Linked DNA regions of Homo sapiens. The protein of the gene in region 1 purifies or fractionates together with the protein of each later gene. This does not show direct contact. Each region holds a gene or a part of one and is shown in the gene's direction. Other genes may lie near its edges.

Region 1 (3,753 bases):
GAGCTACCCCATAGCTCGTCATAGAGTGGCTGTCACTTACCTATAATTGGTTTCTTGAAATGTTTTGTCCAGTCCTGCAAAGTGAAGAACCTCTATGGGCTTGAGTTGATTATACTGGACTCTACCATAAGCCATGTGGGGGAAGGTACAGCAGCTTAGGAGAGTAGTCACCGGGATGCATGTCTGTGGAGGAGCGAACTCATTTCTCTTGAGCAGTGCAGCAGCTGCCTGGCACAAGGACAGAATTCCAGCTGGGGGAGCCTTCGCATGAAGAGGCTGTCTCCTTGATTAAAAAGTCAGATTCTGAGGCTGAGTGTGGTGTCTCACACCTGTAATCCCAGCACTTTGGGAGGCCAAGGCAGGTGGATCACTTGAGGTCAGGAGTTTGAGACCCGCCTGGCCAACATGGTGAAACCCTGTCTCTACTAAAAATACAAAAATTAGCCAGGTGTGGTGGTGCATGCCTGTAGTTCCAGCTACTCGGGAGGCTGAGGCAGGAGAATCGCTTGAACCCAGGAGGTGGAGGTTGCAGTGAGCCAAGATTACGCCATTGCACTCCAGCCTGGGCAACAGAGCAAGACTCCGTCTCAAAAAAAAAAAAAAAAGTCAGATTCTGGAGGCAGACTACTTTGGTTCAAAGTTTTGGCTCCATCCTAATTGGATATGTGATCTTGGGCAAGTTTTTAAAACTTGATGCACCTGAGTTTCTGCATCTGTGTATGAGGATGGCAGCAGTGCTGGCCTCCCGTGTTAGAAGGGTCACGTGAGTCGATGTGTGCGAGGCGCCCGGAGCAGTATCTCACAGTCAGCTCTCCACGTGTCACTCCTCTGCTGCTGCCTTCGTGGAACCTGAGAGTTGGCATACCTGATGGCCATTTCTTACCTGTAGGTCAAGCCGTGCTAACACTGTTACCCCAGCCGTGGGCCGATTGGAGGTGTCCATGGTCAAACCAACTCCAGGCCTGACACCCAGGTTTGACTCAAGGTGAGTATCGAGGGAAACACTTGGATTTGATGGGACTCCAACATTGAGCACTACCCAGAGAAGGAGTGTCTAAGAAAATACTCCTAGGCCAGGCACGGTAGCTCACGCCTGTAATACCAGCACTTTGAGAGGCCGAGGCAGGCGGATCACTTGAGGTCAGGAGTTCAAGACCAGCCTGGCCAAGATGATGAAACGCTGCGTCTACTAAAAATACAAAAATTAGTTGGGTGTGGTGGTGCACGCCTGTAATCCCAGCTACTCAGGAGGCTGAGACAGGAGAATTGCTTGAACCCAGGAGGTGGAGGTTGCAGTGAGCTGCAATTGCACCACTGCACTCCAGCCTGGGCAACAGAGTGAGACTCTGTCTTAAGAAAAGAAAAGAAAATAGTCCCGAGTCCTTGGCCTGGGATGCCTTGTCAGAGGACAGTGGCCAGCTGGGTTTCCTGGTGTATGCCTCTCCCTTAAGTGTAGTTTCACCTATCTTCAGTGGCAAAATGATTCTTTAATGGGAGGGAGGTGAATATTCTGCCTGTGATGACTAGGAGGCCTCTAGGTGACGTTTTTGGCCTTTTCTGATTCAAATCAGAAGGTTTTTATTTTATTTTTAAAATATTTATTTATTATGAGGCAGGGTCTCACTCCAATGCCCAGGCTGGAGAGCAGTGGCACAATCACGGCTCACTGCAACCTTGACTTCCCGGGCTCAAGTGCTTCTCCCACCTTAGCTCCCAAGCATGCCACCATGCCTGGCTAATTTTTTGTTTTTTTGTAGCGATGGGATTTCGCCAGGTTGCCCAGGCTGGTCTCGAACTCCTGAGCTCAAGCAATCTGCCCACCTCGGCCTTCCAATGTACTGGGATTACAAGCATGAGCCATCACACCCGGCCTCAAATCAGTTTTTTAAAGATGAGTAGGCACTCTCCTGTACTCTTGGTAGAAGTAAAAATTGATACTGCTTTTTTGGAGGCTGGCATAAGCGAGGATATTCTTGCAGCATAAGTTAATACCTTCCAAAGAACCTAGTTGACCAAATAGGAGATGCTGTATAGCCATTAAAAAAGACTGGATCTGTGTGTGCTGACAGGGAAAGAGCACCGTGATCACAGAGCATCTCCGAGCAGGTTGCTGAACACTGTGCTGTATGATCCCATTTGGTTTTATATACATACAAAGTTTCTGGAAGGATAGATAAGGAATTCAGAGTGGTTACCCCTGGGGAGGAGAGCAAGAAGTGGTTATCTCTGGTGTGGGGAAGTGTTGAAGATTTATTTTCTACTTTTAATTGCCACTTTTTTTTTTTTTTTTTTTTTTTTTTTTTGAGACGGAGTCTCGCTCTGTCACCCAGGCTGGAGTGCAATGGCACAATCTCGGCTCACTGCAACCTCCACCTCTCAGGTTCAAGCAATTCTCCTGCCTCAGCCTCCTGAGTAGCTGAGATTATAGGTACATGCCACCATGCCCAGCTAAGTTTTGTATTTTTAATAGAGACAGGATTTTGCCATGTTGGCCAGGCTGGTCTCGAACTCCTGACCTCAGGTGATCCACCCCCCTCGGCCTCCCAAAGTGCTGGGATTACAGGTATGAGCCACGGCACTCAGCCAGTTCCCACTTTTCTTTACTGTTTGTTTTCTCACATGAATATGTAACAAAAGGCATTTAGGGAAAACTAGGTAGCAGTATTTTAACTGTCTTGAGAAATTAGTATAATGATGTAATATCTAAATCATCCTCCTTTGCCTCTGAAAAATTCCTCTTGATGGAAGCAGCCACGCCTGGAAACAATTAACCAGCGTATTTCTGGCTTTGTGGATGGATGGATGATGGCACCCATATGGAGCTTTGGACCTAAACTTTATGTGGATAAGAGTTGGCTTTTTGTAAGATGTATGTTCAATAATTACAACCTTCTTTCTCCAGCTGTGTTTAGTCATTACTGCTTTAAAACATTTTTTTTTTCTAAATTTAGAACGTGCTTTCTTAGGAATGTATGACTTAAAAACTGCAACTTGAGGCCAGAGTAAGGTTAAAATGGCCTATAGAGTTTGGTGTCATCCAATTGCCAAGCTATCTTCACAGAGATTTTCCCATTCTAGGGTCTTCAAGACCCCTGGCCTGCGTACTCCAGCAGCAGGAGAGCGGATTTACAACATCTCAGGGAATGGCAGCCCTCTTGCTGACAGCAAAGAGATCTTCCTCACTGTGCCAGTGGGCGGCGGAGAGGTGAAGTATTTCCAAGGGAAGCCAGGCCACAGTGTGCTGCTTAGTCAAGCATTTCTTTTCCCTGGGCCCTCACCCACGCTTCACCCTCAGAGTCCTTTCAGTGCGTGGGTCCTGATCTCCACACTTCTGCGGGACTCAGAACCCAGTTTTCTCTCCCAGGTTAGAGGCCCAGACTGCAAAGATCGTTGCTCAGCTCTGGGTTCTGTTTTTCTGTTTTTTGGTTTTGTTTTTGTTTTTTGTGGGTTTTTTTTTTTTTTTTTTGAGATGGAGTCTTGCTCTGTCACCAGGCGGGAGTGCAGTGGTGCGATCTCGGCTCACTGCAACCTCTGCCTCCTGGGTTCAAGCGATTCTCTTGCCTCAGCCTCCTGAGTAGCTGGGACTACAGGCACACGCCATCATGCCCAGCTAACTTTTGTATTTTTGGTAGAGATGGGGGTTTCACCACGTTGGCCAGGATGGTCTCGATTGCTTGACCTCGTGATCCGCCCTCCTCGGCGTCCCAAAGTGCTGGGATTACAGGCATGAGCCACCGTGCCCACCTTTTTTTT
Region 2 (2,923 bases), on another chromosome or scaffold:
GTGGTGTGGTGCTCCATGGTACAGCACTTTGAGTTTTGTGGGCTGTGTTTCATGCTTACAAATGGCAATGGTAATAGTTGAATATGTTTGACATCAAAAATTAAATTTAGAAGTTTGATTAAAGAGCTATATATAGAAAGGAGAAAAGGCATAAACTTAGAATTATCTTCTAATTTGGTTTTTATTCTAAACATTTCTTATGATCAATAATTTTTGCCTGTGTACACTAGGTAAAATGACAATGTGAGTTGTTATAAGTAAATGTGCTTCTCTTCTCTTTCATTAATTTGAAACAGAACACCAGCCTGATCAACACCAAGAAGAAGCTGGAAACAGACATTTCCCAAATCCAGGGAGAGATGGAGGACATCGTCCAGGAAGCCCGCAATGCAGAGGAGAAGGCCAAGAAGGCCATCACTGATGTAAGCAAGATGAGCATTTGTCTTACTGACACATGCATGCTGCCTGCTATCATCAGAATTCATTATTTTCAAAATTTATTTGCTAACTAGGCTGCCATGATGGCTGAGGAGCTGAAGAAGGAACAGGACACCAGCGCCCACCTGGAGCGGATGAAGAAGAACATGGAGCAGACCGTGAAGGATCTGCAGCTCCGTCTGGATGAGGCTGAGCAGCTGGCGCTGAAGGGTGGGAAGAAGCAGATCCAGAAACTGGAGGCCAGGGTAGGTCTCCACAACTTCACTCAATTCCTTGTGGCCAGTTACAGCCAAACTGGTAAACGTCTTTGTTCCCTTCCAGGTGAGAGAGCTTGAAAGTGAGGTGGAAAGTGAACAGAAGCACAATGTTGAGGCTGTCAAGGGTCTTCGCAAACATGAGAGAAGAGTGAAGGAACTCACTTACCAGGTGACCAGTGTTTTCATATCTTCCAGGCCTATAGTTTTCAAGAAAATCATGAGTTGTTTTAAAATAATGGCACCATCTACTTGCACCTCTTTCAGACTGAGGAGGACCGCAAGAATATTCTCAGGCTGCAGGACTTGGTGGACAAATTGCAAACCAAAGTCAAAGCTTACAAGAGACAAGCTGAAGAGGCTGTGAGTATCTCCACAGTGGAAATGAAAGGTTCAGATGCACATCCAGGTTTTTTGGGGCCTAAAGTTTATAGAATTTAGGGGGTTTTCTTTAAATTGGGAATACATAATTAGGTATGAACATGAATATTTAGAATGAGAAAAATGAACCATAAATTACTGGAGCCTTATAGATTTGAGTTTATTTCTTCTGAGACCTCTTTAAGCAATTTTCCAGACATGTTAACATACAAATGTTTCTTAGTTGCAATCCACTTCCCTCCCTATCTAGAACATTCTACAACCCCCAGCACTCATATGGACCTGTGCAAATGAGAGTATGAATTCTAAGCTTCATTTAACTTCATGATAAATCCATCTTGGGACTTTTTTTTTCAATTTGGCTGCAGTTATCTTTTTCATTCTGTTAATTCTGAAACCTTCCTTAGGGTTCTTGGCACCAAATGCCACTACTGCACCTATTTTTTAAAGTTTCTTTTTTAGAAACAAGATTGAATTCAGATCCCTGCTACTTTGTTCTTCCAGTTATCACTGCAGCCTCTTCAGTTTGCCAGAAAGAGAGTCAAGTGAGAGAGAGACTTGAGGAGGGTCATAAGCACATTCATTTACATAGGCGAGTTTGTGGGATGCCTTGCTCTCAAATAACTATGTTACTAAATAATAAAGCCTTTTTCTCTTCTTTTTTTTTTTTTCGAGGCAGAGTTTTGCTCTTGTTGCCCAGGCTGGAGTGCAATGGCACAATCTCAGCTCACTGCAATCTCTGCCTCCTGGGTCCAAGAGATTCTCCTGCCTCAGCCTCCTGAGTAGCTGGAATTACAGGCATCCACCACTACGCTGGGCTAATTTTAGTAAAGATGGGGGTTTCACCATGTTGGCCAGGCTGGTCTCGAATTCCTGACCTCAGGTGATCCACCCGCCTCAGTCTCCCAGAGTGCTGGGATTACAGGTGTGAGCCACCATGCCTGGACAACGGAGCCTTTTTCTTTCTCATTCATGAGGCAAATCCTGAAGTAACAAAAGCAATAACAATCAGGAAATGTCCAATTTTCTTGTTATCTCAAATGCATCTCTGTTCTCAGGAGGAACAATCCAATGTCAACCTTGCCAAGTTCCGCAAGCTCCAGCACGAGCTGGAGGAGGCCAAGGAACGGGCTGACATTGCTGAGTCCCAAGTCAACAAGCTGAGAGTGAAGAGTCGGGAGGTTCACACAAAAGTCATAAGTGAAGAGTAATTCATTCTAATGAAAGAAAATGTGACCAAAGAAATGCACGAAATGTGAAGTTCTTTGTCACTGTCCTGTATATCAAGGAAATAAAATCTTTAGATAATTTTGCATCTAAAAATACATTTGTCTCTTAATTATAAGCTCTTTAGTGCTATTAGAACTAATTCCTTTATTCAACATTTGTGGAGTTCCTAATATGTGCAATCAGAGATAATAACAAAAATGAATGTAGGCAGTGAACCCAACTTTAATGGAAGGTAAATGAAATAAGGTGCTCTGAGAAGACATGAAGGTGACAAACGCACTCTCAATTCCATTCAACCAATTTTACTGAGTATCAACTATATGTCTGGTACAGAAATGGACACGAAAGATGTGACAGTTATCCCTGTCTTTGAGAAGTTCAATCCAGTGTGGAAGACGGCAGTTCAAAAAGATATACGCTGTATGTATGTGCAACATACATACTCTGACATGAGTGTGAAAAACAAATGTGGCAATAACATAGAGTGAGCTGCTAACTTTGGAAATCCAGAAAGGCTTCTCAAAGGAGACTATGAGCTGATTCCTAAAAGAGGACCAGACAGTTATCAGGTGAAAGAGAAAAAAAATTATGATCATTCTAAGAAAAGAAAACAAGCATGA
Region 3 (3,753 bases), on another chromosome or scaffold:
TAAGGAATTATTGTTGAATATAAATTAGATTTGCCAAATGCTTAAGCTGCCCTGGAATGAACTTTAGTACCAGCCTGCTGTCCTGGACTAAATGATATGACCATACTGTAGGGCCAATGTATACTATTTAATGTCTTCATCTACTTAATTATCAGTTGCCCCCTGGTTTCCTTAAAGAGCTAATGATGCCCAACTATTTCTAGTGAGAGCACTTTGCTACTGAGAGAGTCAAACACCAAGGTGATTCTCTGAACACATTATCTGTGTGTGCTAGGTACAACAGCTAGGAAGAGGTAAGATGATGGTGAGTTACTTAAAGCTCTTAAGAAATGACCCTAGTAGAATATCCATAGGGGTTAAGAGATGAAATTTATTTCTTGGCTTAGCATTTTGGAAGAAATCACTTGGCATTTGTCATTGGCAAGATAAAAAGAAGCTCTGATTTCTGTTCTCCAGAAGATGTACTTGGCTTCTTCCTTTCTCTTAATTTACCCCTATGGCTCTCATTTTGCCTCAGAATGTGAAAGAATAGGCTTACTACTTTGCATTTAGTTAATTTGGTGAGTTCACTGTACTCTCATCTCTGGGCTATTAAATAGTTCAAAAATAAATATCGCATCACTTGTGGAATATGTAGCATGGATCTCATTTGAGCTGTGTTTTAAAACAAATGGTAATTATTTAACATTTACATCATACTTGGAAAGTATTTCAGAATAGAACTTTTTAATAATAAGTAGTCAAACACATAACTGGGATCAATGGGCAAGAGAAAAATAAAATTTTAATGTTCCATTGAAAGGTGTAGGCTCAGGAAGAGAGAAAAATACTTATGTGTATTTTGTATACTCATGTGTATTTGGGACAAACACAGGTTGTGGACGACAGGATTGAAAGTCAGATTAACTGGATCAAAATTCAGGCTGCGTACTGAGCCAGTCTAAGATTTCACCGAAATCTGGGAGCTGCTCCCACTCCCTGGACTTTTGTGCAAAGACTGGAGGAAGCTGTGAACAGCCTGGGCTAGGAGAACATTCCCCCTCTGGGAGGAGAGGCTCGCATGAGCTCATGGGGCTTTCCACCGCAGACCCAGCCTTGGCAGCCACAAAGTGTCCAGCAGTGAAACCTGGCCCTTCAGTTCTCAAGGGCCCTTTGGAACATATTTGACTCTAAGCAGAGGTCACTATTCCAAGAGTGACTCATGTCTTGGGGTTAAGTGGAGATGATGGGTGGGATCCATGAACAGATCCAGCTCTTCCCAATGTGGGGGGCACCAGAGTGCATAGCTTGGGAGGGTTGGTCATCCGAAGAGGCACTGCGTGGGTGCATCCCGGGCAAAAAGGATGAGAAGGTGATCCACTGGCTTCCATACCCTGGGAAAGGTGTCAGACCGTGAGGTCACATCAAAAGGTATGAGTGTGGGTACCTCCTTCCCTCCCCCGACGGTGGGGGCCTCATCTCTCGGCCATATCACCTCTGTGCCTTGCACACTTCCTGGCTCAGACTCAGCCCTGTCCACGTTCTCTTCCACCATCTGATCTGCCCCCATCTCCCAAAGACTACTTGTGGGGACTAGGGAGGTTTAGGGGTGTAGTCAAGCCAGATGCACCGAGGTTGCTGCGGTGGGAAGAGGGCGCTGGGAGGGAGGAGGACCTGGGGCGCAGCCGTGGTGGGTGCGCCCTGCCAAGAAGGGCGGGGGCGACGGGGCGCGCACGCGGAGGAGGAGGAGGAGGAGGGAGACGGGAGGGCGTGTGAGCGAGTGAGACAAGAAAAGGGAGCGCGCCCGCCGCCGCCGCCGCCGCCGCCCTCCTCTGGAGAGAGAGGCTGGAGTGAGGCTGTGCGAAGCGCCGCATTTCAATGAGGACGGGCCGAGGCACATCCCTGCACTAGTGGCCGCAACCGAGGCGCCGCGCTCCAGCAGCTGCTGCCGCCCAGCCCGGCCCCGCCGCCGCCCCCCAGCCCTGCAGCCCCGCAGCCCCGGCCGCGCCCAGCCCGGCGAGGACAGCACCAGGAGGCGGCCCCCAGCGCGGCCACAAAGACCCCCGGCGGCGTCTCTCCGCGGACCGGTGCGTGGTTTGCCTTCCCTGGGGACGGGAGCTGCGGGGAGGGCGGCCGGGGGACTCCGCAGAGCCCGCTCCGCCCGCAGCCGCGGGGCGCCGAGGGCAGGGCGGGCGCTCAGCTTGGCCCCGCCGCCCCGCCCGCAGTTCCTCGAAAGGCGGCCGCCCTGCCCTGGCCAGCCTGGCCCGACCCGGGGGCGTTGCGTGCGGGCGGCCCCGGGGCTGCTGGCACCTGCCTCTTTTGTTTGGTGCCATGGGGCTTTAAACCTGGAGTCAGGCGAGCGGGCCCTCCCAGGCTTTTCGCGTTGTTAGTGGAGATGGAGAGCCAGGGCGGAGGAGCTGGGAGAGGTGCTTGTCATTGTCAGAACTGGCTGCGGAGCGGGAACCAAGGAAGGAGTGGCCGGGCCCGGCCTCTTATTGTGTGTGTGCTTTTCCGTGTGCCCGGGCCAGTGATGTGTGCTTGTGGATGGGGTCGATTCGTGCGTGGTGGTGGCTGCAGCGTGGGTGTTGCAAGTACGTTTGCAGGGTCTCAAGTTCCTTCAGGGACAGCGAGGCTGCCTCATGTTCAAATTAGTACCTGCAGTGCTAAAAGCTTGCGGAGAGGAAATGGCATTTTTTCCTCCTAGTGGGAGCGCACGCACAGCCCCGCAATGCCCCACAAAAGAGGCTGCTTTTGAAAACCAGGTTTGCGCGGAATTGCTCCTGGATTTGGCAAGGAGATGCTTGGTCGGTGAGAGAGAAGATGAAAGGTTTCATTCAAACCGGCTCCCTCTCTGCTGCACCTGTGAGTGTGTCCAGGCACGGTGCACACACGTTCAGCGACCACACTGCAGGCTGTTCCGTGAATACATTTTATGACTGTTCCTAAATATATTGCCTTTCAGTGGGAAAGGAAAGTAGGACAGCGTTTTAAGTATGAAATGTCACATGGATGCAGGTCAGAAGGGATTTTTTAAGAGAGGTCATATAGAGGAAAATTATAAAAGATATGCACACACCCTGTGATGTCTACGTCCGTGGTGGTGCACGGGCCTGGAAGGTATGTGTGCGTTTTATTTCATGCCAGTCCACCTGAATCCTAATCCCACGGTTAAAATATGCCTTGGGACTTCCAGGTCCAGCATCTATTTAGATGTGGTAGCATTTATGCCATTTTTTTCTTGGTATATATGTGTGTAAATTTCTGAAACAAGAACCATGTGCTCATCTAGAGAAGGATGAACATAGATTCCTCAAAATGGTGAGAAATCCCACCGAGAACAATCAGGGATGTTGGTTTCTTGAAATGGCAGGATTTATAGGAAAAGCTCTGATGAGAGCCAGTGGCCCTTCTTACCTCCAGTGTCTGTGGTCGCTGTGGCTGAGGTGCTGTGGTTACCATCCTGGTGCCACTGCACATGTGCACTCAGGCCCTTGGCCACCTATGGTCTCTGAACATTGAGCTGTGTGTTCTCGCAGCCTTCCTGTGCAGAAAGTGTAAACCTGTGGAAGGCCAGTGGATCTTCAGAAGCTCATGCATGGTTCAAATGTATGACTAAGCCAAGGTGAGGGAAAGAACACCTATTTTGTTGCCACGAATAATTACCAGCACACTAGGGTGTGGAGTGTGCTCCATTTAGAGGTAGCTGTAGCCTTGAAAATGATTTCACTCTGAGTATGGTTTCTTTTGTCGACACCATTGCCCACTTTTGGACAG

What was found.
Region 2: the proteins of CDCA8 (region 1) and MYH4 purify together in Homo sapiens (affinity purification with mass spectrometry; 3 studies listed by BioGRID and IntAct, with this or other methods). This does not show direct contact.
Region 3: the proteins of CDCA8 (region 1) and DCLK1 purify together in Homo sapiens (affinity purification with mass spectrometry; 3 studies listed by BioGRID and IntAct, with this or other methods). This does not show direct contact.

Annotation. Positions count from the first base shown.
Region 1 is NC_000001.11:37,702,363-37,706,115, forward strand, and holds part of CDCA8 (borealin), read left to right. Parts: intron 1-889; coding exon 890-985; intron 986-3,078; coding exon 3,079-3,205; intron 3,206-3,753.
Region 2 is NC_000017.11:10,442,736-10,445,658, reverse strand, and holds the end of MYH4 (myosin-4), read left to right. Parts: intron 1-296; coding exon 297-422; intron 423-512; coding exon 513-683; intron 684-759; coding exon 760-864; intron 865-959; coding exon 960-1,055; intron 1,056-2,131; coding exon 2,132-2,284; 3' UTR 2,285-2,369; downstream 2,370-2,923. UniProt on the Homo sapiens protein: Muscle contraction.
Region 3 is NC_000013.11:36,129,427-36,133,179, reverse strand, and holds the start of DCLK1 (serine/threonine-protein kinase DCLK1), read left to right. Parts: upstream 1-1,797; 5' UTR 1,798-2,066; intron 2,067-3,753.